7 separate regions of the Homo sapiens genome follow, and all the other regions are reported to be linked to region 4. The links are microRNA targets in miRTarBase. Many come from high-throughput screens and were not tested one by one. Region 4 holds a microRNA gene; each other region holds the end of a gene's coding sequence. Distances are between the middles of the regions.

What was found. Region 4 holds the annotated microRNA hsa-miR-26b-5p (UUCAAGUAAUUCAGGAUAGGU, at 1,496-1,516, opposite strand). A microRNA usually pairs through its seed, bases 2 to 8, with sites in the 3' UTR of a target mRNA and lowers its output. Matches are read on the target gene's strand: a 7mer-m8 pairs with bases 2 to 8, a 7mer-A1 pairs with bases 2 to 7 and ends in A, and an 8mer does both.
Region 1: the mRNA of ST8SIA2 is a reported target of hsa-miR-26b-5p. The part of its 3' UTR that is shown has no 7-base or 8-base seed match.
Region 2: miRTarBase lists CCDC144A as a target of hsa-miR-26b-5p. The part of its 3' UTR that is shown has no 7-base or 8-base seed match.
Region 3: miRTarBase lists RNF2 as a target of hsa-miR-26b-5p. The part of its 3' UTR that is shown has no 7-base or 8-base seed match.
Region 5: the mRNA of FAM98A is a reported target of hsa-miR-26b-5p. Seed matches in the 3' UTR shown: 8mer at 824-831 and 8mer at 1,272-1,279.
Region 6: the mRNA of DSC1 is a reported target of hsa-miR-26b-5p. The part of its 3' UTR that is shown has no 7-base or 8-base seed match.
Region 7: miRTarBase lists NMRK2 as a target of hsa-miR-26b-5p. The part of its 3' UTR that is shown has no 7-base or 8-base seed match.

The regions. Positions count from the first base shown.
Region 1 is chr15:92,463,943-92,468,009 of GRCh38, forward strand. ST8SIA2 (ST8 alpha-N-acetyl-neuraminide alpha-2,8-sialyltransferase 2) reads left to right here. Exons shown (of 6, transcript NM_006011.4): 6 at 158-4,067. The coding sequence ends at 443. Among named protein-coding and RNA genes, the nearest start is that of C15orf32, 5.7 kb to the right of the region's middle.
Region 2 is chr17:16,773,227-16,777,293 of GRCh38, reverse strand. CCDC144A (coiled-coil domain containing 144A) reads right to left here. Exons shown (of 17, transcript NM_001382000.1): 17 at 1-3,797. The coding sequence ends at 3,661. Among named protein-coding and RNA genes, the nearest start is that of FAM106C, 14 kb to the left of the region's middle.
Region 3 is chr1:185,100,096-185,104,150 of GRCh38, reverse strand. RNF2 (ring finger protein 2) reads right to left here. Exons shown (of 7, transcript NM_007212.4): 7 at 1,548-3,951. The coding sequence ends at 3,850. Among named protein-coding and RNA genes, the nearest start is that of TRMT1L, 55 kb to the left of the region's middle.
Region 4 is chr2:218,400,106-218,404,172 of GRCh38, reverse strand. MIR26B (microRNA 26b) reads right to left here and starts at 1,527; the gene lies at 1,451-1,527. It overlaps CTDSP1 (CTD small phosphatase 1), which reads right to left. Exons shown (of 7, transcript NM_021198.3): 1 at 4,016-4,067; 2 at 2,461-2,609; 3 at 1,958-2,062; 4 at 1,768-1,824; 5 at 1,046-1,138; 6 at 756-941. RefSeq lists a silencer at 3,858-4,017.
Region 5 is chr2:33,581,221-33,585,287 of GRCh38, reverse strand. It overlaps FAM98A (family with sequence similarity 98 member A), which reads left to right. Exons shown (of 8, transcript NM_015475.5): 8 at 1-1,628. The coding sequence ends at 512. Among named protein-coding and RNA genes, the nearest start is that of RASGRP3-AS1, 14 kb to the right of the region's middle. RefSeq lists an enhancer at 1,020-1,839.
Region 6 is chr18:31,126,827-31,130,893 of GRCh38, forward strand. It overlaps DSC1 (desmocollin 1), which reads right to left. Exons shown (of 16, transcript NM_024421.2): 16 at 2,410-3,885. The coding sequence ends at 3,688. The region is part of intron 2 of DSCAS (DSC1/DSC2 antisense RNA); the gene reads left to right. Among named protein-coding and RNA genes, the nearest start is that of DSC2, 26 kb to the left of the region's middle.
Region 7 is chr19:3,941,568-3,945,634 of GRCh38, forward strand. NMRK2 (nicotinamide riboside kinase 2) reads left to right here. Exons shown (of 8, transcript NM_170678.3): 8 at 516-849. The coding sequence ends at 706. Among named protein-coding and RNA genes, the nearest start is that of NMRK2, 11 kb to the left of the region's middle.

The DNA.
Region 1 (4,067 bases), not on the chromosome of region 4:
CACTCCTCTGTGGAGGGAACCAGGGATGTGTAGCTTGATCGGTCCCTGGAGTGGCAGAAGGCAGGCTGCTGGGCAGGATAAAATTTTTGTCTTCCTGGAAAGGATGACTCACAGACCCATGTTTCTTTTCTTTTTTTTTTTTTTTTTTTTTTTCCAGATACTGGCTGACCAACAAAGTCCACATCAAAAGACCCACCACCGGCCTCTTGATGTATACCCTGGCCACACGTTTCTGCAAACAAATCTACCTCTACGGCTTCTGGCCCTTTCCGCTGGATCAGAACCAGAACCCAGTCAAGTACCACTATTATGACAGCCTCAAGTATGGCTACACCTCCCAGGCCAGCCCGCATACCATGCCCTTGGAGTTTAAGGCCCTCAAGAGCCTACATGAGCAGGGGGCTTTGAAACTGACTGTCGGCCAGTGCGATGGGGCCACGTAGGGTGGGCACCCCATGGGACTCAGTGGCTCACATTTCCTGCCAGCTACACCACAGGCAGATGGGAGTCGGGGTGGCACAAACAATAGAACAAGCAGGCTAGTGGTTTTCTTTGTTAAAGTGTAAAACAGTGACCAGAATATATATATCTATACCTGCATATATATATTGACCTGAGTATTTATAACTGTGTGGTGTTCATCTAGCATTAGGCAGATAGGCCACAGGAAGAAGGTGTGGAGAACCCACCTGAACCAGATTGAGACTCAATCCATCTTTGGGGGTGGAAGGACTTGACATGAAAAGAAGCCAGTCCCATGACTTTGGATGACAAACTGCCTCCTGGCTTGGAGGGATCTTTGGGCTCATGGATGAATGGCGAGCCACCTGTTGTCAGCTGCCCCAAGCCTCTGGGATATGTGGATTCGGAGAAAGCTGAGGCCCAGAGGGGACACTCGACCCAGTCTAAAGTGGGTGCCATTCACGGAGGAGAGGGAGGTTGGAGACTTCAACCGGGCAAAGGAGCACAAGGAAACCAAGCAGCAGAGGCCCCATCAGCACAGAGGGCCTCGTTCCACGAACGTAGAGTTTGACTGCCTAAGGGACAGCACGAATGACTCACATGTTTCAGACAGGCCTCCACGGCTATGGAGAGAAGGCTGGAGGAGACACAATGGATGGTTCATGTTCTGGCTTAGCAAGAGCCACCAAGAACTTTGGGTGAAGCAAGCAGATGACAATGAAGAGGAGTAATGTTCCGAATCATGTTTTTGAAAAATCAAGACCTCCTGTTAAGGGCCCACTTGACCCTAGAATAAGGCAGGAGAGTGTCTAAAATCTAGCTGCTTTGGGTGTTTTTTAAAGCAATGTGAGTCCACTGAGGAGGAAGAGACCCTGGGATTTCACCCTCTGGGTTAGTCTCTGTCTCACCCTGTTAGAATGTCACGAGGGACTGTACTGTCCCCTCTGTCACCAGGGAAGCCACAATGAGAGCTTGAAAGGGTGCTGTCAAGATAAATGTCATCCTTCTTAAAATACATATGATTGCCTTTTTGGGTGCCTCACAGAGCCCCAGAGTGTGAGACCTGAAAGAATGTTCAGCATCTAGCTCCATGTCCCTGCAACCACTCTCTGTTTGCCTTCTGCATTCTGCACTCTGCGGGGCCTTTGCAGCCAGACTGCTGTGTCAATGTTACTTTCTTGTCACTTTCCTACCCTGATGGTCACACTAGCCCACCCCAAGCTCCGACATTGAGGTTTTCATCTCTGCAGGGAGAGGTTCCAATGTCCACCCCACCCCCAGGTACCCGCCTCTTCCCACAGAAGCAATTTTAGAATTTTGCAAAATTCTTTTCCCCTTATTGAGATTAATATTTAAGATTAAAAAAAAAATACCCAAAGCCAAATGCAGTTCCAAATAGTGGACATAATCTCCCAGGGAAATCTGGGCTCGAGGCCTACAACTTAGGGGCTGGAATCACAGGTCTCACATAGAGAAATAGCCAGCTTGAATTTGTTAGTCGTATTCCTTCACCTGATGAATAACAGTGTTTTAAAACATATTTGAAAGGTAAGTAAAAAACTACCATCTTGAAGGTGAAGGGAGTTAAGAAAAGTAATCAAGACCTGCTCCTAAGCATATGAGACCAGATGTAATTAATCAATGGCAATGCAGAACAGGACCTTGGCTCTAAATTAATGGTTGACCGGAAGGGATTGGAGGCGGCAGAACCATTAACCCTACACAAGAACACTCCAGCCCAAAACCGTGAGGAAGGTGATATATCTCTGCATTTTCCCTTGTTGTTGCTTGAAGTCTGTGATTGGGGATTTGCGTTATAAAATGAATATTTTAAAAAGCAACAGCCCTAATAGCCTCTGTGGGAACTGAGTGGTTTCGGACTCCTCACAGGCGGTGGAAATAATTAATACCATATTTTATACATCTCCAGAGCCTTTCATCTTGAGGATCTCAAAGACCGTAGAAGACATTTAATTTCTAAAGCTTGAAGTGCCCCGAGGAGCAGGTAGAATTTCCAGCAGGGCCTTGGTGGATTAACCAAGGCCTTGGATTCCAGAATGTTTCATGGTAAGCACTGTGGAGAACCTACATGTCAGGTTCTGGAGTTGGCCCTGAGCTCTATCCACCAAGCCAGCACCCCACCATCCCTTTGCAGGGGAGTCAAAGGGCCAGAACTCCTTGGGGGACCAGAACATGGTTTTCCTTCTGCCTATCTTAGTCATGGCTCCTAAAATTGAAGCTGATATGAGCTGGAGTGCAAGGAGTCCTTCCACCCTGCCTTCAGGTTCTCTCTGGAGAAAGGTTAGAGACCCCAGGACAATCAACATGTGCACCGTTCCCCTCCTCGGCTTGAGTCCTGCACTACCAAAATGGCCTGGCCATTTGATGGCGGAGCTCCAGGGGCCTTGGCTTTCTCTGGCTCATTGTCCTTCTCCATCTGGGCCAATTGTCCTTCCCTGCCCATTCAGAGTTCAATTTGAGCCTCCACTGCAGTTCCTGGTGTGGGCCAGCTGGTGTTGGGTGGCCCCAGGGAGTCACACAGTCTGTACCCGGCCCCGAGATCCTCTGCTGTAACTGCAGGGTCACAGGCATCCCGGGAGAATGGGCCTCCACCCTCAGCCAGCCCTCACTGCTGACAGGCACCCCTCTGTCACCTCCTGCCACCTGTCAGATACCCAGCCTGCCCGCCATCAGCCACCCGAGTGGTTCCGACCTCCATTCACCTCAAGCCCCAACAGGCCCCTGTCATTCCACTTCATGGAAGAGACGGAGCCTTCTGAAATGAGATCTACCCTGAAAATCTCTTCTCCTTCCCCTTTCTGAGAAACGTCATCCCCACCAGTTAACGTTTCCTGTACACCCTCACCCTCTCTCGTCCATCTCTGTTGCCTCTGCACATCAGCACACACTGACTCCACCTGGGCTGGCTCCTGCCGCCTCTTCCCTACCTCCTCCACTAGCCGCAGGAAGGGCCTCCAGCACCCACAACTGCCCTTCCTCTTGATGCCCCTCGGCTTCCCCCCAGCCTGGCAGCAGCGTCCCAGCGCCTCCACATTGCCCCTCTCACCTCCCAGCTCTCCACGCCACTTGGCTCTGCAGCGACCCCTCCTAGACGCTCCCTGGCCCCTCGGCACCCAGAATGCCACATTCTTGTGTTTTTTTCCTCCTTCTTTCCCAATCCCTCTCAACCATGTATTTATTTATATATGTATGTATTTTTTTATTTATTATTTATTTATTGAAACCCCTACTTTGATTGACAAAGGAATCAAGGTAGATCTGACCAGTATTCCCCTCTCTTCTCCTTGTCCCACCACATGGACATGCCTTACACTGGCGTCCTCTCCTGAGTCCCTCCGCACTCTCCATCAGCAACCTCACACCTGCCTTCAGACCCGGCTGCAACTTCCTAAGCTGCCCCTGCCCCAGCTCCTCTCTGCAACCCAGCCCTCTCCTGAGCTCTAGGCTGGGATTACACCCGCTGGAGGGACACTCACCCCATCTGCTCCCACGGCAGCACCATCAACTCAACAAGTCAGAAGCCAAGTGGATCATCTGTGTCCCCTTCCCCCACAATCCCTCCTTTTTCTAGTAAAAGACCCGTG
Region 2 (4,067 bases), not on the chromosome of region 4:
TAGTGCTGCCAGCGGAGTATTAACATCCCCCACTATTATTGTGTTGCCAACTACCTCATTTCTTATGTCTAGTAGTAATTGTTTTATAAATTTGGGATCTCCAGTATTAGGTGCATATATATTTAGGACTGTGATATTTTCCTGTTGAACTAGTCCTTTTATCATTATATAATGTCCCTCTTTGTCTTTTTAAAACTGCTGTTGTCTTAAAGTCCGTTTTGTCTGATATAAGAACAGCTACTCCTGCTCGCTTTTGATGTGTCCATTTAGACGAAGTGTCTTTTTCCAACCCTTTGCCTTAAGTTTATGTGAGTCCGTATGTGTTAGGTGAGTCTCCTGAAGACAGCAGCAACTTGGTTGGTGAATTCTTACCCATTCTGCCATTCTATATCTTTTAAGTGGAGCATTTAGGCCATTTACGTTCAACATTAGCATTGAGATGTGAGGTACTATTCTATTGTAACGCTATTTGTTGCCTGAGTACCTGAAAACCTGGAAGCGTTCCCTTGAAAACTGACACAAGACAAAGATGCCCTCTCTCACCACTCCTATTCAACACAGTATTAGAAATTCTCACCAAGGCAATCAGGCAAGAGAAAGAAAGAAAAGCTATTCAAATAGGAAGACAGGAAGTCAAACTATCTTTGTTTGCAGATGATATGATCCTATATCTAGAAAACTCCATCATCTCAGCTCAAAAACTTCTTAGCTGATAAGCAACTTCAACAAAGTCTCAGGATACAAAATCAATGTGCAAAAGTCACTAGCATTCCTATACACCAACAACAGGCAAGCCGAGAGAAAACTCATGAATTAACTCCCATTCACAATTGCCACAAGAAGAGTATAATACCTAGGAATACAGCTAACAAGAAAAGTGAAGGACCTTTTCAAGGATAACTATAAACCATTATTCAAAGAAATCAGAGATGACACAAACAAATGGAAAAACATATGCTCACAGACAGGAAGGTTCAATATCGTGAAAATGACCACACTGCCCAAGGCAATCTGTAAATTAAATGCTAGGCCCATTAAACTACTATTCACATTCTTTACAGACCTAGAAAAAGCTATTTTAAAATTCATATGGAACCAAAAAAGAGCCCAAATAGCCAAGACAATCCTAAGCAAGAAGAGCAAAGCTAGAGGCATCATGCTACCCAGCTTCAAACATACTACAAGACTACAGTAACCAAAACAGCATAGTGCTGGTACAAGAACCGACACATAGACCAATGGAACAGAATAGAGAACCCAGAAATAAGACCACACACCTACAACCATGTGATCTTTGACAAACCTGACAAAAGGAAGCAATGGGGAAAAGATTCCCTATTTAATAAATGGTGCTGGGAGAACTGGCTAGCCATATGCAGCAAATTGAAACGGGACCCCTTCCTTAACCCATATACAAAAGTTAACTCAAGATGGATTAAAGACTTAAATCTACAACCCAAAACTATAAAAATCCTGGAAGAAAACCTAGGCAATGCCATTCAGGACACAGGCAAGGGCAAAGATTTCATGACGAAGATGCCAAAAGCAATTGCAACAAAAGCCAAAATTGACAAATGGGATCTAATTAAACTAAAGAGCTTCTGCACAGCATTAAGAACCTATCAACAGAGTAAACCGACAACCTACAGAATGGGAGAAAATTTTTGCACTCTATCCATCTGACAAAGGTCTAATATCCAGCATCTACAAGGAACTTAAACAAATTTACAAGAAAAAAAAACTCAACCCCATTAGAAAGTGGTCAAAGGACACAAACAGACACTTTTCAAAAGAAGGCATACATGCAGCCAACAAACAAAAAAACTTCAACATCACTGATCATCTGAGAAATGCAAATCAAAACCACAATGAGACACCATCTCACAACAGTCAGAATGGCTATAATTCAAAAAAATGAAAAGATGCTGGCAAGATTATGGAGAAACAGGAATGCTTTTACACTGTTGATAGGAGTGTAAATTAGTTCAACCAGTGTGGAAGACAGTGTGGTGATTCCTCAAAGATCTAGAACCTGAAATACCATTTAACCCAGCAATCCCATTACTTGGTATATACCCAAAGGAATATAACTAATTCTAGTATAAAGATACACGCACACGTATGTTCATTGCAGCACTATTCACAATAGCAAAGACAAAGAATCAACCTAAAAGCCCATCAATGATAAACTGGATAAAGAAAATGTGGTACATATACACCATGGAATACTATGCAGCCATGAAAAGGAATGAGACATGTCCTTTGCAGGGACATGGGTGGAGCTGCAGAACATTATCCTCAGCAAACCAACGCAGAAATAGAAAATGAAATACTGCATGCTCTCACTTACAAGTGGGAGCTGAATAATGAGAACACATGGACACATGGCGGGGAACAACACACACAGGGGCATGTGGGATGGTGGCGGGTGAAAGAAGGGAGAGCATCGTGAAGAACAGCTAATGGATGCTGGGCTATTATTAATACCTAGGTGATGGGATGATCTGTGCAGCAAACCACCATGGCACATATTTACCTATGTAACAAACCTGGACATCCTGCACATCCTGCACATGTACCCCTGAACTTAAAAGATGAAAATAAAAAATAATAATAATTGCAGGTCACCTGATAGAATGCAGTGAGAAGATCATGGGATAACTTCTGTGATACTCTTGCCAAAAAAAAAATTATCATCTAAATCTTATCATAAAAAAAGTTCAGAGAAATCCAATGGAGGGACATTCTGTATTATTGGACTTTACTCTTCAAAAGATTTAAGGTCATAAAGGTCAAAGAAAAACTGAGGAACTGTTCCAGACTGAAAGAGTCATGACAACTAAATGAAATTCATGGACCTGAATGGGATCCTTCTGCTACAAAGAACATTATAGACAATTAAGAAAACTTGAAAAGAAACTGAGAATTAAATGATCAAGTGTATTGATGTTAACTTTCCGATTATGAAGTAGTTATATAAAATGTCCTGACTTGTGGGAATACCCACATACCAGATGTGATGGCATAATGTCAGCAATTTACTCTCAAATGGCCCACAGGGGGAAAGCTGTTTTTCCTAAAATGTGGAAATTTTCTCCAATTTTAAGACTGTTTCCCAAAAGTTAATCTAATAAAGAAATGAAACAATAAATAAAAAAGCAAAAAGCCTTAGGCAAACCTTATTTTTCCACAAGGAAAGATCTAAATAAATCAGTGCTTAAAATTAAAATTATCTAAGTTTGATTGCACTATAACAATCGTAATACATCCAAACATTGACAATGACCACAGTACCAGTATACCAAAATGATGTCTATCTAAACTTAAATCTATCACTATGTATAAAGATAAAATTATAAAATACAAACAAGCCATCAATTGGCTCCACTAAATTACTAATGGCAACTTGATTATTTGGCTGTTTAAACAGCAAACATTTGGGCAGTTCGAGTATGTAAAACTCAGTAATACTGGTTTTCATTTGCAAAATCCACTTAAAAGTTAGCTGAAGAGGCCAAGAAACATTATTTAAAATACTATATAAATTTTCATCAGACATGTATAATATAGAATATTTCCCTTTAGTAAAAATGTTCACATCATATATTTAATGGGAAACAAAATATCATGTGAATAGCCCAAATAAAATTGCCTTATCTTTCAGAGTATGTATTTTCTTCTTAAAATCTGTGCATATTCTTTTGTTACTTCCAAAACTGGATCTTGATTCAGATTTTCCTTGTGTGTAAATCCTAGAGGAGAAGCTATATAGGATCCAGGTTCATATTTAGTAGCAGCTGAAAAAAAAAGCAAGAATTATATTATTATTATTATTGTTATTATTTTAAGATAGGGTCTCACTCTTTCACCTATGCTGGAGTGCCATGGTGTGATCACAGGTCACTGCAGTCTTGTCCTCCCAGGCTTAAGCAATTCTCCTGCCTCAGCCCCAAGTACTTGGAACTGCAGGCATGAGCCACTGTGCCTGGCAAGCTTTTGTATTTTTTATAGGGGCAGGGTTTCGTCATGTTGGCACAGGCTGCTCTCAAACTCCTGGGCTCCAGTGA
Region 3 (4,055 bases), not on the chromosome of region 4:
GTCAGCTGCTTTTTAGGCCCACATGCCTCAGGCAACTGCTGTGTTAAACAACGGCAGGAACGATTTTTTACAAACACCATGAAGATAGAGCTTTTTAAGCAAAGTGAGCTGAGTCCAGTCAAAGACACGCTCAGAGAAAAAGAGCTTTTCAGTGAGGTTCCAGAAAGGCCAAGAGTGATAATTCACTGGAGTGTGATTTTTGGGGAGTTTTGAGGCTATTTTGGGGGAAACTTAAACTTTTCTGAATAGAAATGGGAATTTAAGAGATGCCTTTTCTCACTTGGCATTTCAGTTACTTCACATTTAGTTATCCAAATCAGAATCCTGAGCCTTTGTCTTCTCAAATGTACACAAAGGAAATACTGTCTTCCTAAGGTTCAAAGGGTTAGAAATGATATAATGCAAAATTTATTACAAAGCTAAAGTAATCAAAATAGTGTAGTACTGGCATAAGGACAAACATATAGACCAATGGAATACAACATCCAGAAATAAACCCTCACATATGATTTAGAACAAGAGCACCAAGATCATTCAGTGGAGAAAAGGCTAAGAAAACTGGATATCCAAATACAAATGAACAAAGCTGGACACTGACCTTTCACCATATACAAAACTCACAATGGATCAAAGACTAAGAGCTAAAACTATAAAACTCTTAAAAGAGGAAAATCTTCATGACATTGGGTTTGGCAATCTTCTTGAATATGACACCAATAGCATAGCCAAAAGAAAAAAGACAGATACACTAGACTTCACCAAAATAAAAAAAATTCTGTACATCAAAGGACACTATCAAGGGAATCAAAAGAAAACCCAAAGAATGGGAGAAAATATTTGCAAATCATGTATCTGATAATGGATTACTAACTAGAATAAAGAATGCCCACAACTCAACAATAACAGAACCCAGTCAAAAATGGGTGAAGGACTTGAATACACATACACATTTCTCCACAGAAAATACACAAATGGCCAGCAAGTACAGAAAAAGATGCTCAGCATCACAAGCTGTTAGGGAAATGCAAATTAAAACCACAATGAAAGGAGACATCCAGTAAGACAGCTATCATAAGGATACCCATTAATATAGTTATTTTAAAAAGAAGAAAAGAAAATAACAAGTGTTACAGAGGATACGGAAAAGCCAGAACGCTTGTTCATTGGTGGCAGGAATGTAAAATAATGAAGCTGCTATGGAAAACAGTTTGGAGTCCCTCAAAAAATTAAACATAGAATTATCATATGATGCAGTAATTCTATTCCTTCATATATACCCAAAATAACAGAAGGCAGAACTCAATTATATACTTCTATAATAATGTTCACTGCAGTATTATTCACAATACCAAAAGTCTCCATCAACAGATGAATGGATAAACAAAATGTGGCACATACATACAATATTATTCAGCCATAAATAGGAATGAAATTCTGATATATGCTATCACATGAACCTTGAAAATAATGTGTGATTCCACAGGTGCCATGAGGCACCTAAAATAGACAAATTCAAAAAGAGAAAGTAGAATAGAGGTTGCTAGGGGTTAAGAAGAAGAGAAATGCATTACTTTAATTGCACACAGAGTTTCTGTTTGGGGTGATGAAAAAGTTTTACAAGTAGACAGCGGTGATCATTACACAACATTGTGAATGTACCTAACCCCACTGAATTACATGCCTTAAAATGGTTAAAACTGTAAATGTGGCTATGTATATGTTACCATAAAAAAATTTAGAACTAAGTACCCAAAGCCTTCACACCACTTGTGGTGAGCCTTTTCTTCCTCAGTTGAGATAGTGATAAAAGAAATTACTTAGGTAATACTTTTTGAAACCCTGGTTGGTAGTGATGGCCAATAGCATCGCCTCTCCCCGTACCCCAAAACACACATCCACACACACACAAAATACACTCAATACCCTATCAAATACCTAGAATTATATTTCACAAAGGATTACACAACCAATAATTTCACTAATGATGCAGTTTATATCCTCCCATACTGACAGATAAAAACACATACATTCTCTAAGCACAAAGCTTATAGTCACAAATAACTCTCTGCTTAAAGACAAAATTTCAATTAATCACAATGGGAATTTAGTTATTTAATGCAACTACTAATCTAATGTCATCAACAAAATCTAAGCAGTTTTATCACAAAACCAGGGTTATATTCAGTGGGCATGCATTAATAATCTATACAACTTTAACATTACACCAGAAAAGGAATTGAATATATAAAAGTTCCCTTGATTTTTGGTGGTTTTCAAATTTCATGGCACAGATTACAAAAAAAAAAAAAAAAAAAAAACCCTGTAAAAACAGATTTTAAATATTTTCCATAAAATGGTAAAAAATTGAATATATACCTTTAAGTTTTCATACCGGGCTGAAGATTTAAAACATCAAGCTGGCCCCAATCTGTCAAAACTGACAGATAAATATTTACAATGACTAGACAGACTTTAGTTACAAAGGTACTGGAGGTCTACACCCTATTGAAAACCCTTTAGGGTTAATTTCTCAATGCAAACATGTCTTTTTAAATACTGTGATATATAAAGTTGGAAATATACCTAGAGTCTGGAGAGAGATGAAATATAACACCCAAGTCAATCTTATTTCTGATCTGTCAACAAAGCTTTCTGGCTCCCAAACACCCAATATTGTTCCTCAATATAAAAATTAAGAACAGTAGAATGACTTTACCCTACTGGCTGACGTTTTTCTACAGAATTATCTTTCACTACATATTAAAGCAGGGCTCAAGCTCTATTAACCTTCTACAGAGTGTAATTAAAAGAGCGCCAAATTTATAAACTGATGTGGCAACCCAAAATGATATAATTTTCCAATGGAAACAAACTTTTTTCCATTGTTCTGTGTGCCATGTTATTCTTGAAACTTATGTGGCTACAAATAAGAAAAAAATTAGGGAAGCTTTGAACATATCTTGTACTTTTCATCAAGGCTAAAGTGCAAAATATCTCCATTATCTCTGGTATTTTAATGGGGAAAAACATCACATATAATACAGGAAATGAAGTGACAGCAGAACTAATACAAAAAAAAGCACTCTCAAACGTATACTTGAAGACTATATTTTACTACCAATTTAATTTTTCTTTCTTCAGCAGAATATGTCAATGAACCAAGTTCTCATAGAACTTAAGATTTTGTTTGATTCTTCCCAGGACCAGAAATTCCAAAATTACAGGGAAAAAGAATGGAAAAAAAAAAACATTGCATGACAATGGACACTAAGTTCATAAAGAACTTCTTTTTAAAATGAGATATTATGGAAGAAAATACCATGAAAAGAATAATCCTATGAGAATTGTTTTTAAGGACAGTAAATTTGAGCCTTGGGTCTTCATGAAGATACTACAGTTTATATAGAAAACTATAAATATACAAGACTCCGGGGGAAAAAAAAAGTCAGAATACATAATATTTAACATTCTGTATGACTAAAAATCTTTTGAGGGGAGCAGGAAAAGGACAGCCAACTGAATCTTATAAGAATACAGAAACTATGAAAAATTCCTGGGTCAAAATGGTGCTCCAAGTGGAAACACACTTTGTGGGGAAAAAAAAAAACACAAGAAACTTCAGATATATTTTTTTAAAGGAAAGAAAAAAATACTGAATAATTGCAGTCCCTTCCAAAAAGGAAATCTTAAATAAAGGGGAAAAGATTTGAATAGCGTAAACTAGTCTGGCTCAGAAAGAAAATTGAACAACATATCCAAGATCTGTCCATAAAAGTAATGCCAGTACATCTTTAATATTAAAGAAATAGGCTATAAAAAAGTTCAGTCTCAGAATTGGTTTTTAAAGGCTCATTTGTGCTCCTTTGTAGGTGCGTAATAAAGTTCCATGGGTTTGTTCACTTTCCAGTATTTCTCACTGACCAATTCCAAAGAAAAAGAGCCATTTAATACCTAAAACAAAAAAGAAAGAAAAAATTATGAAAACTGCACAAACCACAATAATAATGAAATGAAACTAAAATGGAAGTCCACAGAATCTTTTTTTTTCAAATCTT
Region 4 (4,067 bases):
AAACTTTTTTGACAGCAATCCCCAGGAAAACACATTTATAACGTAACAATGCAAAAGCTTCACAATTCCTAACCTTATCTGTGCGAAGCACTCGGATACTTTTTTTTTTTTTTGAGGCAGGGTCTTGCTCTGTTGCCCAGGCTAGAGTGCAGTGGCACAATCTTGGCTCACCACAGCCTCTGCCTCCAGGGCTCAAGTGATACTCCTACCTCAGCCTTCTGCATAGCCGGGACTCCAGGCATGCGCCACCACGCCTGGCTAGTTTTTGTATTTTTTGTAGACATAAGGTTTCACTATGTTGCCGAGGCTGGTCTTGAACTACTGGGCTCAGCTACCTGCCCACCTCAGCTTCCCAAAGTGCTGGGATTACAGGCATGAGCCACTGCACCCGACCGGATATTTTCTATTCTATTTCATTTTGTTAAAATTCCCAATCAGAACCCACTAAATTAATTCTGTGGGCCATCAGTAGGTCACAACTGGCAATTCGAAAAATTGAAACTTTCCAAACTCCGTTGCCCTGTGGGGGCCCCTGTGCATGGCAGATGCTCTGCTTTGTGCGAGGGGAAAAGACCATATGGCTACAGGGCAGGTGGATGAGGGGAGTGGGCGGCAGGCACAGGCAATGAATGCAGGAAGGACTGGGAGGGCACCCACCCCCCAACTGGGGATCCAAGAGGCCAAGGTGGCCTGAATGGACTGACCCCTTCCTGGGTCTCAGCTCCTGTCCCAGTCCCAGTCCAGCCCGCACTCACAGCATTGTCTGGATGGAAGACATAGGAGGCAGGTGAATTGTCCAGGATGAGCACCCGCCGCAGGTCTCGACCCAACCGGCTCAGGTCCTTCACGTAGTTCCCCCGGTGGAAGACGCAGGACTCTCGAAACAGCCGGGCCCGGAAGGCCCCCCATTTGTCCAGCAGGTCAGCTACTGGGTCTGCGTACTGGGAGCAGGAGGTGGGTCATCCTGGGGCCCGCAGGTTCATTGGGCTGCATGCGGGAGGTAGGTAGGAGGGCAGGGTTGCCCCGGGACCCCTGTGGGGCTCACCTTGGCGAGGCTAGCAGTGAACAGCACACATTCAAAGAGCTCGCCCATTCGCTGCAGGAACTCATCCACGTGAGGACGCTTCAACACGTAGACCTGGGGGGCGGGCCAGTGAGGGGGCTGCGGGCCAGTGGGGCAGTGTGGGGGTGGCCGAGGGCTGGCAGGGCATGGGCCAGGGAGGCAGAGGCGCACAGGAAGGAGACTGGGCCCGCAGGCTCCGCTTGGCCAGCTACCCTGACCACTGCTGGGGAAACTGTACCCACCCCCCGCCAGAAAACGATCAAAACTTCCACTCCACTGGCCAGTCCTACCTCACGAGGTCCCTAATTCCCAATCCCTTCCCCTGCCTCAACCTCAGCCTAGTGCAGGAATCCAGGGGCAGCCCCCTCACCCCAAGGCTGCAGGGCACCGGTCCCCGAGCCAAGTAATGGAGAACAGGCTGGACAGCACACAACCTATCCTGAATTACTTGAACTGGGTCCCGGGCAGGGTGGGGCGAGGGAGCACAGCACGGGGGAGCCTAGAGGAGGAGCCCACTCTGCAGGCTTGGAGTCAGCACAAGCCCTTGAGGTTCTGTGTGACTTTGGGACAAGTCTCACACCCTCTCTGGGCCTCTGACATTCCACATGTATCCAATTCCCATCCGAGGCGCTCCGGATTGGTGGGAAGAGCCTAGGGTCTGGAGGCAGATGCCAAGCCCACCACTGCCTCTTCCTGGCCCTCACCTGGTGGACCACCCCATCAATCTCCACAGGGATGATGAAGTCCGCGTTGTTCACTGGCTGTGGGGGGAAAAGAGCTGCTGGAGTTGGAGGAGGAGCCCCAGGGCATGGGGTCCAGCACACACCTCCCTCCCAGGCCAGGGTGGGGGATGCCCCCCGAGACCCGGGCTGAGGGCTGTTGAGCAGGGCCCACCTTGAAGGAGCTGTGCACCAGGGTCTCGTCCAGGTCGATGACCACGCAGATCTTGTCTGAGTCCTGGGCCTTGGCCTCAGGGAGCAGGTATTGGACTGGGGTCTGCTGTAGGGAGGGCGGGGCTGGCTGGGGTGCCTCTCTCCGGGCCTGGTCCTTCCTCCCACGCAGGCTTCTCCCCCTAGCCGTCTCCAGAGGAACCCCAGGCCCCAGGAACAGATACTTCCCCCTTCCCAGCTTTGCCCCTGCCAGCTCTAGGGCTTGGGTAGGCCTCTTGGCTCTTTGAGACCTCTCTAAAAACCAAGGTAGGAAAAAGCTTCCACTTATGAGGGAGAATTCAGTTTCCCCACAGTGGGCAGGGCCTGGCAGGGGAGGCTGCCACCCTCCTACTCTGCACCTTTCAGGTCTGCAAGTCCATCCTGAAAAGCTCAGTCAGGAGCCCCTTCCCCTAAAGCCCTGAAGACTGAGTCCAGGTGCCCCCGTGGCCCCACCTGGCCCCCACGCACCTTAGGGATGGCGCCATTCTCCTCCACAAGCAGGGGCGCCCCGCTGTGAGCAGGCAGGGCCTCCCCATCATCCCGGCAGACACAGCAGAAGAGTGAGTGGAGGATGCCCCGGCTTCGGGGCTTCTGGGAAGCTGCTGACTTCTGGTCACCTGAAGTAGGGAGGCACAAGTTGGAGGCTCGGTGCACACTGGCCTGCAGAATCCTGCATGTGTGCCCAGGTGTGAACCCCTGAGCCAGGAGGATCTTGCCGTGGCCCCTTCATCCAGACACACGAAGGCAGCTCCTGACTTTCTCTGAAACGCCCCTGTCAGGGCTCCACAATCAACTGCAAGGCTCCTGCAGCTCCCAGACAAATAGGTCTAGCAGGTATTAAGGCGCCCACATAGGGAGTGCGTGGCCTGGAGAAGGAGGTCCTGGGGTGCTCTCTCCCTGCCTCTCACAGCCTCCATGACTGCTGCTGATCAGCCCCATTGCGGTGCCTCCTGACCCCACCTTACCTGAGCACCCCTGCTCAGGACAGCCAGGGCCTGGGACCCAGGGCAGTCCACCCCTGCCCTCCCTCCATCCTCTCCACCCCCGTGGGTACGAAGTCCTCACTGCGGCTGGGCCCAGAGGCAGGGGTGCAGTCCCGCGGCCTGGGGCCAGTGTCCAGTGGCCATCTGTTTGCCCTGCCCCGCCCAGACCTCCGACCTGGAGCCCAGCAGCCTGATTGACAGATACCCCTCCCACCCCACCCCCCTCCGGCCCCCTGCAACTAGCCTTTCCACCTTGCCCTCAGTTCCGGGGCAGCCAGACCCAGGCGAGGGTGGGCAGACCTGGGGGCAGCGTCCAGATCCTGAGGTCCACACGGGGAAAAGGAGAAGACAGACCCCCCCACCCCGGCCCAGCCACGCTGGGGGACGCAGCCTCGTCGGGGCGGCGAGGCTTTGCGGGGTGGTGCGTGCCCACTAGGCGCACGACTCTCCCCGCGGGCGCCAAGCGACTCTTGGAAGTGCCGGCCGTCCTCTCTGTGCCTCCGAGGGGGTCGGCGCCTCCACGCGTGACGCGAAGTTTGTGGGGAACGTAGCTGTGTGTTGGCGGGAGATCCCTCCAAGCCTCCCCAGCCTGCTGTCACCTCGGCGCCCCCTCCCAAGACCCTACCGGACCGCAGCCCGGGGGGGTGGGGGTGGGGGGTGGGGCGGAGTCTCAGCGGGTGGCCCATAGGCGCCCTCCTCAGCTCCCCCATCTCCCAGCCCCATTGGCGCCAATGGTGGGGGGGCGCCCATGCACCACGCAATGCCTGCCAGGAAACCCCCGAAGAGTTCCCTCTCTATTCCTGCCTCAGTTTCCTCACCTCGAGCGAACAGGAGCGCCCCAAAGGCGCCAGGCCCCGCCCCGCGTCTCTGAGCCTCCTCTGAGTTCAAACTCTCTCCCTGCTCCCTCTCGGGCTGGGAGCTTCGGGCACAGCTAAGGCGGCCGCCCGGGGCGGCGGCGGCGGCTCCCCTGGGGAAGATCCCGGCCCCTTCTCTCCTCCCACGGCGCCCCGGCTTCGGCCCCCTCCCCGCAGCCCCGGTACCTTTGCCCCGCAGCGGGCCCCGAGCCTCCTCCTTGCTGATCTGAGTAATGAC
Region 5 (4,067 bases), 180 Mb from region 4:
GAGGACGAGGAGGTCATGAACAAGGAGGCGGGAGAGGTGGACGTGGTGGCTATGACCATGGTGGCCGAGGGGGAGGAAGAGGAAATAAGCATCAAGGAGGCTGGACAGATGGAGGGAGTGGTGGAGGAGGTGGCTACCAAGATGGTGGTTATCGAGATTCAGGTTTCCAGCCAGGTGGCTATCATGGTGGCCACAGCAGTGGTGGCTATCAAGGCGGAGGTTATGGTGGCTTCCAAACATCTTCTTCATATACAGGAAGTGGATACCAGGGTGGTGGCTACCAGCAGGACAATAGATACCAAGATGGCGGGCACCATGGTGATCGTGGTGGTGGTCGTGGTGGGCGAGGTGGTCGTGGAGGCCGAGGTGGTCGTGCAGGCCAGGGAGGAGGCTGGGGAGGAAGAGGGAGCCAGAATTATCACCAAGGGGGTCAATTTGAACAGCATTTCCAGCATGGAGGTTATCAGTATAATCATTCTGGATTTGGACAGGGAAGACATTACACTAGTTGAGGCTACCGAACCTTACATTTTGCTAGAGCTCAAGTAATAGAAACTTAGTTTCAGAATCCTGAATTCAGCACCTATTTTGAATTAATGTGAGACCACAGGTGGCAGGCAGATTCCTGCTTGGCATAAGCATTTGTAGGTCTTCATTCAATTCTGTTAGATTTTTTTATTGGACTTACATAATGCCGTTTATTTGAGAAACACATAACATCTCTCCTTTCTATGAAAAATTTTTTAAAAGGTGGTTAAAATTGCCTTTAATTGCCCAGTAGACTAATTCCACAGTCAGAACATGCAAACTTTTTTGAAGAAATTACTTGAATAAGTAGTTTTCATGTTTTCAATATGCAGTTTTGAAAATGAGGATTCACCTAGACTTTTTTAGATTTACTACTAGGAAACCTTCCTCATATGAATAACCATTTATATGTGTTTTGCTTAAAGTATTCCAATGCCTATTTTCCAAGCACAGTTCTGCCCCCCGGTTGACTTTTATGCCACGTGTGCTTCATGATGGAACTTTTAGGTCAGTTCCTATTAAATGAGCTCTTTTGCAGATAGCACATTCAGTAGCCTTATTTTGTTGATGGAATACTGTATCATATGCTCAACTCTGAAAACCTTGAACACGGCCAAAATCCATAAAGATTATAAAAGCAAACTAAGTTGTGAAGCTATAGTACATGTAGGCATTTAGTTAAGTATAGCAATTCAAACTGACCTGCATCCATCCAAAACAAATTCCTCCTTCAACCTTATTTTTACTTGAAATTTGCTAGAAGAAATAGCAAACCGAAATTTGTTTTATGCATGAGTTAATACCACTGGCTCAGCAAATACAAGTTAGTTTGCTTTAAGCAGGTAACTTTTTTTGTAATGGAAGAAATGCACTACAAAGTTAAGACAGATTTTTGCTAAGTGCAGGAGGCCCTTTATTATTGCTGCAGAAAACAAAAGCCTGGCTGAGTTGATGTTTTACATTCTCCCTTACTGAAATCTACATGACATGATGCTTCTTGCTGGGTTTTTGTACATGTAAACATTGTCAAGCTGTGAAAGAAAATGGCTGGAGGTGTGCTTTGTGTGAAAGGTGAGCAATAAAGTATCTGTTAAGTTCTCTCTTTGGTTTGAGTTTTATTTTAGCTACTGAATTATTCTGGACTCTTGCGTCAAGCTGATGAGCTAAGGCTTTTGTTCCCAAAGATTCTTGAGTATTTCCTTAAAACCTAATTTTAGTGAAAGGTGACTTTTATCCTAAAACCTTAAATAAATGGAAAAATGGCTCTTTCCAGGTTTTCCTTTTATAATAATATAGCTAGAAACCGTCACCACTCATCTCTGGCCACTGGGTGTAGCTGTTGCTACACATACTAGGCAAAAATGTTTTTAGGGTTTTTTTGTTATTTGCTTCTCCATTCTTCCTAAGATTGGGGGACTTTTTTTAAAAAAGGAAGTAACTGAAAATATAAATATGTTTATCAAAAGAGAAATTGTATTTCCTTTCTACTAAATTGGGCTTTTTTAAAGAATCAACTCATGTCATGCCATTTAAAATAATCTACTTGCTACTGAGATAAGCACATTCTTCTAATACTAAAACCATCTTTGAAAACCCACATTGATCCTTTTAACTTTACCTGTTTATTTTTCAGCTAACATTTACAATTATTTTAAAATGTTCAAATTTGAAGACAATTTCAAGTGTTTTATCATTAAAGTAAGTTAAGGTTTTAAGTTGTCTTGAATGTTGTGTTGGTTTCTTTAAACTGTTAAGTAATTATGTTTATATAGGATTTCCTATTAAAATTGTCAAGGTTTCATATTTTAAATGTATCATATCTTAGGATGTATTTATATTTAGTATTTGCTTTGATCTGTTTTGTAGCCTCAGACTCCACAATATAGCTAATGAATACAGGTTTCATTCTTTTGAAAAATATTTTGATTTATCTTTACGGTTAATAGATTGCTTTTTCGAATATAAGGATGTAAGAACACAAATGATACATTTCGCCCTGATAGTTCTGAAATCTGCAGCTCCTGCTTCAAACTAGATTTTCCCCCAACATTATTATTTTTTAAAAAACTTCTATGTTCAGGGGTACATGTGAAGGTTTGTTATACAGGTAAACTTGTGTCACAGCGGTTTGTTGTACAGACTATTTCATCATCCAGGTATTAAGCCCAACACCCGAAGGTTATCTTTTCTGTTCCTCTAGTTCCTCCCACCCTCCACCCTCAAGTAGACCCCTATCTGTTGTTTCCCTCTTTTGTGTTCATGCGTCTTCATCATTTAGCTCCCACTTATAAGTGAGAATATGTGGTATTTGGTTTTCTGTTCCTGTGTCAGTTTGCTAAGGATAATGGCCTCCAGTTCCAGCCTTGTTCCTGCAAAAGACAGGATCTCATTCTTTTTTATGGCTATATGGTATTTTATGGTGTGTACATGTACCACATTTTCTTTATCCAGTTGGTCATTGATGGGCATTTAGGTTGATTCCGTGTCTTTCCTATTGTGAATAGTGCTGCAGTGAATATATGCGTGCATGTGTCTTTATGGTAGAGTGATTTATATTCCTCTGGATGTATACCCAGTAATGGGATTGCTGGGCCGAATGGTAGTTCTGCTTTTAGCTCTTTGAAGAATCGCCATACTGATTTCCACAATGGTTGAACTAATTTGCACTCCCACCAACAGTGTATAAGTGTTCCCTTTTCTCTGGAACCTTACCAGCGTTTGCTGTTCCTCCCCCGCCTCTCCCCATTCTGAAACCATAAAAGAATTGAGTTTTTTCTCTTGAACATAGATCAAGTTCTCTAGAAACAGGATATTTCAAACCACCAGTTAGTTTTATTGTTATATTAAAGTTCTTAGGTTTTGTATAGAGAGTATCTTTTGATCTTATATGCATTCTTAACCTTAACTTGTAAATAATGATTTACTGGAATATAGGGCATATGAGAATTTCTTGGAGAAACAAGCGAAAAATATTAGGAGAGAATTTTTAACATGATATCTTAAACTGTTATCTCTTAAAACGGATACAGTGAGACAGACAGTACCTTTAGTTAATGTTCTGTTTCCTCCTACTACTAGGAACTAGAATAGGATGTCAGTATTCTCTATGAAAACTATTAAAGATATACCACTATCATTTTTATTTCTTGCTGTAGATCCAAACTAATCTAGTGTCCAACTGTGGTAGACATAGAATAGGCAAATTCTTGCTGAGGGAAGGCATTTGAATCATTTCTATATATACTTAATTGATTTCCCAGTGCCCAGATTACCTCCATCCTTAGACTTAAATATTTTTAGGTTGTGCCCATTGTATCTTTCTGGATACTTTGTCTACCTATATTACATCCTTTTGAAAATAGTTTTTAAATATGTTTATATTATTTAATCATACCCCCGCCTCCCACTTTAGGTAATTTGGATAGCATTTGATCCATTTGTTTTTTAACAGAGAGGGTTACCTAAATAAAATTTAGGTATTTATTTGTATTTTACCTAAATAAAAAAATGAGTTTACCTGAATGAAAAAGTACATTCAT
Region 6 (4,067 bases), not on the chromosome of region 4:
AATATTCTATATCTTTTAGGGGAGGCAAAGCCAAGTAAGGAAATCCTTTCATTTCCACTTTTGATTAGAGGGTTTCTTTTAGTTTTTCTTGAACTCTACCTGGTAGAAAATAACATTAATTTTAGGCAAATTAAAACTTCAGATATCTCAAATGAAGCCTTGAGTTTTTTTAGTGTTAATAATTCCACAGTATATCATTTAGAAGTCTCTAAACATAGACAAATAGAATTCCACAGTTACAGGTATCAAATTGTTGCACACTGACAACCAAATTTTTAAAATGTTGAAATCCTACATATTCTCAGGCAAATGCAGACCACAGGAAAACCACATTTGTCTTTCATTGTTTTTTTTTTCTCTAAAGTTAGGGAATAAACAACTGCTAACTCTGTAGATTGATTTATGAAAGGATATTTTATTTCGGTCAATCAAAAAACTTACTTTAAGAAGTGAATATCTTAAAATAATAAAAGACTTAACTTCATAAGATATATATTATAAATGCACTTCACACATTTGTTTTTATAATCCTTCTAATACACTTAAATTAGTCTATTTAAAATAACTATTTTTAAAAAGTTATTTTGGTTTTGGTAGTAAGGATTTGAGGTAATATAATGTGATTTTTATTTTTTATGTAAACATTTTTTTGAAGAGTTTTGAAAAATTACGCTAACTTAATTTTATTGGGCCCTATAAAATATGCAAGAATCTATCCATTCTTAGTAACGTTTTCTTCTGCTATACTTCTTTATTTTCTTCTTTTCTACAAAAGCAGAAAGACAAATGCAGTGTCTAGTCAAATGCAACACTCCTTCAGATTTATTAGAAAAGCAGATAAAAGAGAGTAGAAAAATGCAGCAATATACATTGTTTGTTTCATTACCCTAATTTCATTTAGGTTTTTCAACTAGTACAGAACTTTCATAACTACCATGCAATAAAAAGAGGGCTTTTCTGTGATAATAAAAATCTTTGACTCTAAAACATCTATTTTGAGCATTTTCTAAATAACACAGCATATGACTTTTCTGAAAGTAAATATATGCATAGATGTCAAGTTGTATGAAATACTTTTAATAAACACAGGAGTAAGCAGAAGTTCAGTAAAATTAGGACATGTCTAATGAAGCTCACTTATAAAATTACATTGATTTTCATCTACCCTGGTGTTCTCATGAAATTTTTTCACATGAAATATTTGAGATCTGAAATAAGATAAGAAAATTTAACTGTATATCTTCCTCAATACTGATTTAATTCTAGAAAAACCAGTCATAACTATTAACTTATTAACTGACAATTAAGTTTTATGAAATAAATCCATGAAATGCAATCTTTTATTAACAAATGAAATTTGTAAGCAATCTGATAGAGTGTCACATATTTTATCAAACATACAATTAACATTTAATTTTGGGAGTAAACAGAGAATGATTTTGAATTGCCTAAGTAAACCAAAAGACAGTCAAAGTTTCTCTGAGATAAACTCTAATGATATTTTGAAAATATTTTAAATGGCCAAAACTGTTTAATACAAATTTATTTCTCACACTTTCTAATAATTTTTCAAATGCTTTTGGAGTATCTTCTCTTGCTGACTGAGCTATCTACCTCTGGATATTAATTATTACATTTTGAATGTAGGTAGAAATTGTTCTTGGAGTAACTAAAAATCATTAGCTGAAATTTAACTTACATATGTTCGTTTGTCTTCATATTTCTTTTCACTTGCTTAATTATGGGAAAGAAAATGTATATCTGAACATAAAAGTACAATTAAAGTTAAGGTTCAGTTAATGATTTTTAATTACTCCAAGAACATTTTGTACCTACATTCAAGAATGTAACTTTTTATGATAAATGTCCAAATTTATATTATATTTTAAAATTTTAGAACTGATATTATCAGAGCAACCTGTACATCAGAGAACAAAAATTGCATGACCACAAAAATATTTTATAATGGTTATAAAAATTATATGTTATGGATACCTTATAAAATCTGATTTATTAAAATCACTTTTTTCTTCTGATCCAATATCCAATTTCATATCAAGAAGCGCCTTTAATTTGGAACTGAGAATTAGAAGACTAGTCACAAAATTTTTTTAAAAAGCCACTCATTTTTAAAAATAGTTAACTAGTTAGAAAATATCTAGTTAATAGATTTTTTTAAGTCTTTGTTTTTTCTGGATGAGAAATTTCCATACTGTTATTGTTTATAGACTTATAGAGTTTGCCACAAATGACTACGAAAATGCTATTTAAATATATAGTTTCTTTTTAGATTAATAAAATATACTATCCTATTAAAATGTTATACATTCAAAATTATTTCTGAATGTGTGCGTTCATTTATTCATCATTCTACAAATGTTTGGTAAGTGTTGCTGTAATTGATTTCAATTTTTTTTTTTTTTTTTGAGACGGAGTTTCGCTCTTGTTGCCCAGGCTGGAGTGCAGTGGCAATCTCGGCTCACTGCAACCTCCGCCTCCTGGATTCAAGCGATTCTCCTGCCTCAGCCTCCTGAGTAGCTGGGATTACAGTCATTCGCCACCATGTCCGGCTAATTTCTTATATTTTTAGTAGAGTGGGGGTTTCTCATATACATTCTAGTCCCTAATTCTGACTGCCCATTTTCTTAAAGTAACTGTAAATTTAGGCTGAGTCTTAAGTTCTAATACAGATGGTAATTCAATTTCTGGCATATTCAAGGTGCTAGTCTCTGTATATCAGAGTTGCAGCCTAATGCATCAGGGCTAGTTGTCCAAATGCTTGGAGATGGCAGGTGGCAACCACAGATAAGGCAGGCCTATGTCAAACTCAAGAGTGAATGTTTTTGCTAAAGTATTTATATTTTTAAAATGTTAGTAGTAAACCATGTTGAGCAAACGAAACATATTTGTGAGCATAAGTCAACCCATGGACCTCAGGGCTGCAATTCTTTCATGGAAATCTTCTCATGTAATCTTCATAAAATCTCTGCCCCTCAATTTGCTATGAGCTTGTTCTGGTCCTTATCTTTCCAAGAACCCTAGAAGTTGGAGTGACCTAACAACAAATCCACATGGGCAGAGGTCCAGGGACTGAGCTCTGAAGGATCCTGAAAGAAAACAATGCTGGGAGCACTGCTCTGAGGAGTACAAAAGTGTAAAAGAGAAATGAACTTAATCACAAAACTGAAGATTGCACTGAAGAATACTTAAAAGTCCTTTTTAAACCACTCAGGTGGAGAGAATGCAATTATCTGGCACCAACTATGTTCTAAGAACATAATTCTCCCCAAGATTTTGAAGAACATATTTAATTCGTACATCTACAATGCAAATTCATCTTTCATTGGCCTCTATAATACCCAGCTTTCCCAAATGCTCTTCCACAGCACAAAAAGTAACATCAGTTTGCAAATAAAAGGTGCAAGAAGGTGTACAGTACAGTCGTGAAAAGGGCAATATATACATGCATATAAAAGAGAATTAACAAACAAAACCTTGATTTCTAGAGAACATGGAAGTTATACCAGACAAGGAGAATGTAGGGGAATCTCATATTTATAGTACCCTTACCTATACATGACAAAGTTTACCTCCATAAACAAAAACATTAGCAGATGCTGCTAACATTCTGCAAGTAATAAATTCCTACTTATGCATCTGTGGATATTACACTATTAAAAGGCACATTTATTTCTTGATGCATGTCTTTGCTAATGTCCTAAATTTGGGTTCCAGGTGATCTAGAAACTCCAGTCCCTCTTCTTCCTGCCGATCGCTGCAGCAACCTACTGAGCCGGCCAGAGAACCTTTGCCTTCATAGTTATACGAACAAACGTAGTCTTCACAATGTTTATGCTCCTCATCTTGTCCACACAAATACACCTTCTGTATCAAAAAAGAGCACATTTTATTATTTTTTAAAAAACACCTAAACATATTAGCAGAAAAATGATGTCTTTGATTTACCTTTTACTGTTTAATTTTTAATCAGAGTGTGTCCTCTAATGGATTCCTATATATAAAAAATGCACAGGATTGGTCTGTATTATAGTCACTCTTAAAATATA
Region 7 (4,067 bases), not on the chromosome of region 4:
CTTCAGTACTCCCCACTCAGGACCTTTGGAAACCTGGACATTCCTCCGTGAGCCTCGCCCCCAGTCCCTCTTGCTATTTTTGTTGTTGTTGTTTAGACGGAGTCTTGTTCTGTCGCCCAGGCTGGAGTGCAGTGGCGCGATCTTGGCTCACGGCAATCTCCGCCTCCCGGGTTCAAGCCTTTCCCCTGCCTCAGCCTCCTGAATAGCTGGGATTACAGGCGCGCGTCACCACACCCATCTAATTTTTGTATTTTTAGTAGAGATGGGGTTTCACCCTGTTGGCCAGGCTGGTTTCGAACTCCTGACCTCGTGATCCGCCTGCCTCGGCCTCCCAAAGTGCTAGGATTACAGGTGTGAGCCACCGCGCCCGGCCCCCTCTTGCTGTTGGTCCAGGAAACTGACTCCAGCAGCCCGACTCTGCAGATCTCCTTGCTCCTGACCCAGCCGTCCACTCGTCCCCCCGTGCTCTGGCCCCCTTCCTCCCGGCAGCCCTGACGCAGCCTTTCTGATTTCAGTCTACCTGGACGGCATGAAGTCCCGAGAGGAGCTCTTCCGTGAAGTCCTGGAAGACATTCAGAACTCGCTGCTGAACCGCTCCCAGGAATCAGCCCCCTCCCCGGCTCGCCCAGCCAGGACACAGGGACCCGGACGCGGATGCGGCCACAGAACGGCCAGGCCTGCAGCGTCCCAGCAGGACAGCATGTGAGCGTTTCCCTATGGGGGTGTCTGTACGTAGGAGAGTGGAGGCCCCACTCCCAGTTGGGCGTCCCGGAGCTCAGGGACTGAGCCCCAAGACGCCTCTGTAACCTCGCTGCAGCTTCAGTAGTAAACTGGGTCCTGTTTTTTTAACTGTTGGTGTCTACCGTGTTCTGTCTAAGATCCGTCAGGCCAGGTGCAGTGGCTCACGCCTGTAATCCCAGCAGTTTGGGAGGCCGAGGAGGGCGGATTGCCTGAGGTCAGGAGTTCAAGACCAGCCAGGCCAGGATGGCAAAACCCTGTCTCTACTAAAAATACAAAAATTAGCCAGGCATGGTGGTGCATGCCTGTAATCCCAGCTACTTGGGAGGCCGAGGCAGGAGAATCGCTTGAACCCGGGAGGCAGAGGTTGCAGGGAGCCGAGATCGCACTACTGCACTCCAGCCTGGGTGACAGAGCAAGATCCGTCTCAAAAAAAAAAAAAATTAAAAATTAGCTGGGCATGGTGGTATACCTGTGTAGCCTCAGCTACACAGGAGGCTGAGACAGGAGGATTGCTTGAGCCCAAGAGGTTGAGGCTGCAGTGAGCTATGATCAGGCCACTGCACTCCAGCCTGGGTGACAATGCGATAACCTGTCTCAAAAAAATTTTTTTTCTCAATGCCTATAAATAAAGTTTTATTGGCACCCGGCCCCTGCCATTTGTACGTGTCAGCCCTGTGGCTGCTTTAGTACTACAATAGCATGTTGAGTCACCCTGACAGAGAAGGTCTGTCTGCAAAGCCAAAAATATTTACTATTTGCCCCTCTGTGCAAAATGTGTGCTGAACGGTGTGGTGTATGCCAGGTCGAGTCCAGGGCCACAGGGAGGGTCTGAGGTCTCCGTGCTGGAGGGGAAGCAGGAGTGGATATGGAATGGGAGGATGACGTGGAAGAGGTGGCTTGCCAAGGCTTCTCCTTCCCCATAAGCACAGAGTGTGGTAAGGATGATCTGCCGGTCACTGTGCCCAAAATAGTCCAGGACAGGACAGAGACATGAGGGAGGTGGTTCCAGGACAGCAGAAGCCCTGCCTGGCAGCCCAGATACCTTGGGCATTATTGTTCTTTTAAAAAAAAAAGAAAGGTTCATGCCTGTAATCCCAGCACTTTGGGAGGTTGAGGGGGGAGGATCACTTAAGCCCCGGAGTTCCAGTCCAGCCTGGGCAAGATAGTGAGACCCCCATCTCTACAAAAAATGATAAAATATTAGCAAGGCGTGGTAGCCCATGCCTGTAATCCCAGCACTTTGGGAGGCCAAGGAGGTGAATTGCTTGAGCCCAGGAGTTTGAAACCAGCCTGGGCAACAGAGTGAGACCCCGTTTCTGTTTTTATTTTTCTGTATTTATTTTTACTTAGTTATTTATTTTTGAGATGGAGTCTCGGTCTGTCGCCCAGGCTGGAGTGCAGTGGCGTGATCTCGGCTCACGGCAATCTCCACCTCCCAGGTTCAAGCAATTCTCCTGCCTCAGCCTCCCAAGTAGCTGGGATCACAGGCATGCACCACCACGCCCAGCTAATTTTTGTATGTTTAGTAAAGACGGGGTTTCGCCATGTTGGCCAGGCTGGTCTCGAACTCCTGACTTCAGGTGATCCACCCGCCTAGGCCCCCCAAAATGCTGGGATTACAGACGTGAAACACCATGCCCGGCTGTGAGACCCCGTTTCTACAAAAAATTAGCCAGGCATGATGACACATGTCTGTAGTCTCAGCTACTCGGGAGGCTGAGGTGGGAGGATCCCTTGAGCCCAGAAAGTTGAGGCTGCAATGAGTTATGATTGCATGACTACACTCCAGGCTGGGCGACAGAGCAAGACCCTATCTCAAAAAAAAAAAAAAAAAAAAACAAAACAAGAAGGGGAACAGTAGCCACAGGGTAACCAACCAAAAAACGGAAGATGATAAGGGTTGGCCAGGATGTGGAGAGAGCAAAACCCTTATGCTCTGAGGTGGGAAATGGAACACAGTGAGCCTGACGAGAAACAGTCTGGCCGTTTCTCAGAATTAAACATGGAATTACCATAGGGCCTAGCAATCCTGCTCCTGGGCAAGGCCCCAAGGAATTCACAGCAGGGACTCAAAGAGATCCTTGCACAGCCATGTTCATGGGGGCACAGCCCACAACAGCCAAAAGGTAGAGGCAACCCAAGTGTCCACAGACAGATGAATGAATGAACACAATGTACTCCATCCGTACATGAATATTACTGAGCCATGAAAAGGAAGGGAATCTGGACACAGGGCACAACAGGATGATCCTTGAAGATGTCACGCTCCGTGAAATAAGCCAAGGCCGGGCATGGTGGCTCACCCTTGTAATCCCAACACTTTGGGAAGCGGAGAGGGGTGGATCACCTGTGGTCAGGAGTTCAAGACCAGCCTGGTCAACATGGCAAAACCCCGTCTCTACTAAAAATACAAAAATTAGCTGGGCATGGCGGTGGCGTGCCTGTAGTCCCAGCTACTTGAGAGGCTGAGGCAGGAGAATCACTTGAACCCAGGAAGTAAAGGTTGCAGTGAGCCAAGATTGCGCCATTGCACTCCAGCCTGGGCAACAGAACAAGACTCCATCTCAAAAAAAAAAAAAAAAAAAGGGAAGGAAGGGAGGGAGGGAGGGAGGGAGGAAGCTGGGCGTAGTCGCTCACACCTGTGAATCCCAGCACTTTGGGAGGCTGAGACTGGAGGAGCCAAGGAGTTTGAGATCAGCCTGGACAATATAGCAAGACCCTGTCTCTACTTTTAAAAAAAATACTGGGGGGCTAGAGCAGTGGCTCACGCCTATAATCCCAGCACTTTGAGAAGCCAAGGCAGGAGGATCGCTTGAGCCCAGGAGTCTGAGACCAGACTAGGCAACATAGTGAGACCCTGTTTCTTTTTTTAATTTAAAATGTTATTCTTGGCCGGGCACAGTGGCTCATGCCTGTAATCTCAGCACTTTGGGAGACCAAGGCACCCAGATCACTTGAGGTTAGGAGTTCGAGACCAACCTGGCCAACATGGTGAAACCCCGTCTCTGCTAAAAATACAAAAATTAGCTGGGTGTGGTGGTGCACACCTGTAATCCCAGCTATTTGGGAGGCTGAGACAGGAGAATCACTTGAACCCAGGAGGCGGAGATTGCAGTGAGCCAAGATTGCACCACTGCTCTCCAGCTGGGGTGACAGAGGGAGATTCCATCTCAAAAAAATAAATTTAAATTTAAAAAGTAAAATAAAATATTTTTAATTAAAACAACTTTTTTGGCCAGGCGCGGTGGCTCACTCCTGTAATCCCAGGACTTTGGGTGGCTGAGGCAGGCAGATCATGAGGTCAGGAGTTTGAGACCAGCCTGGCC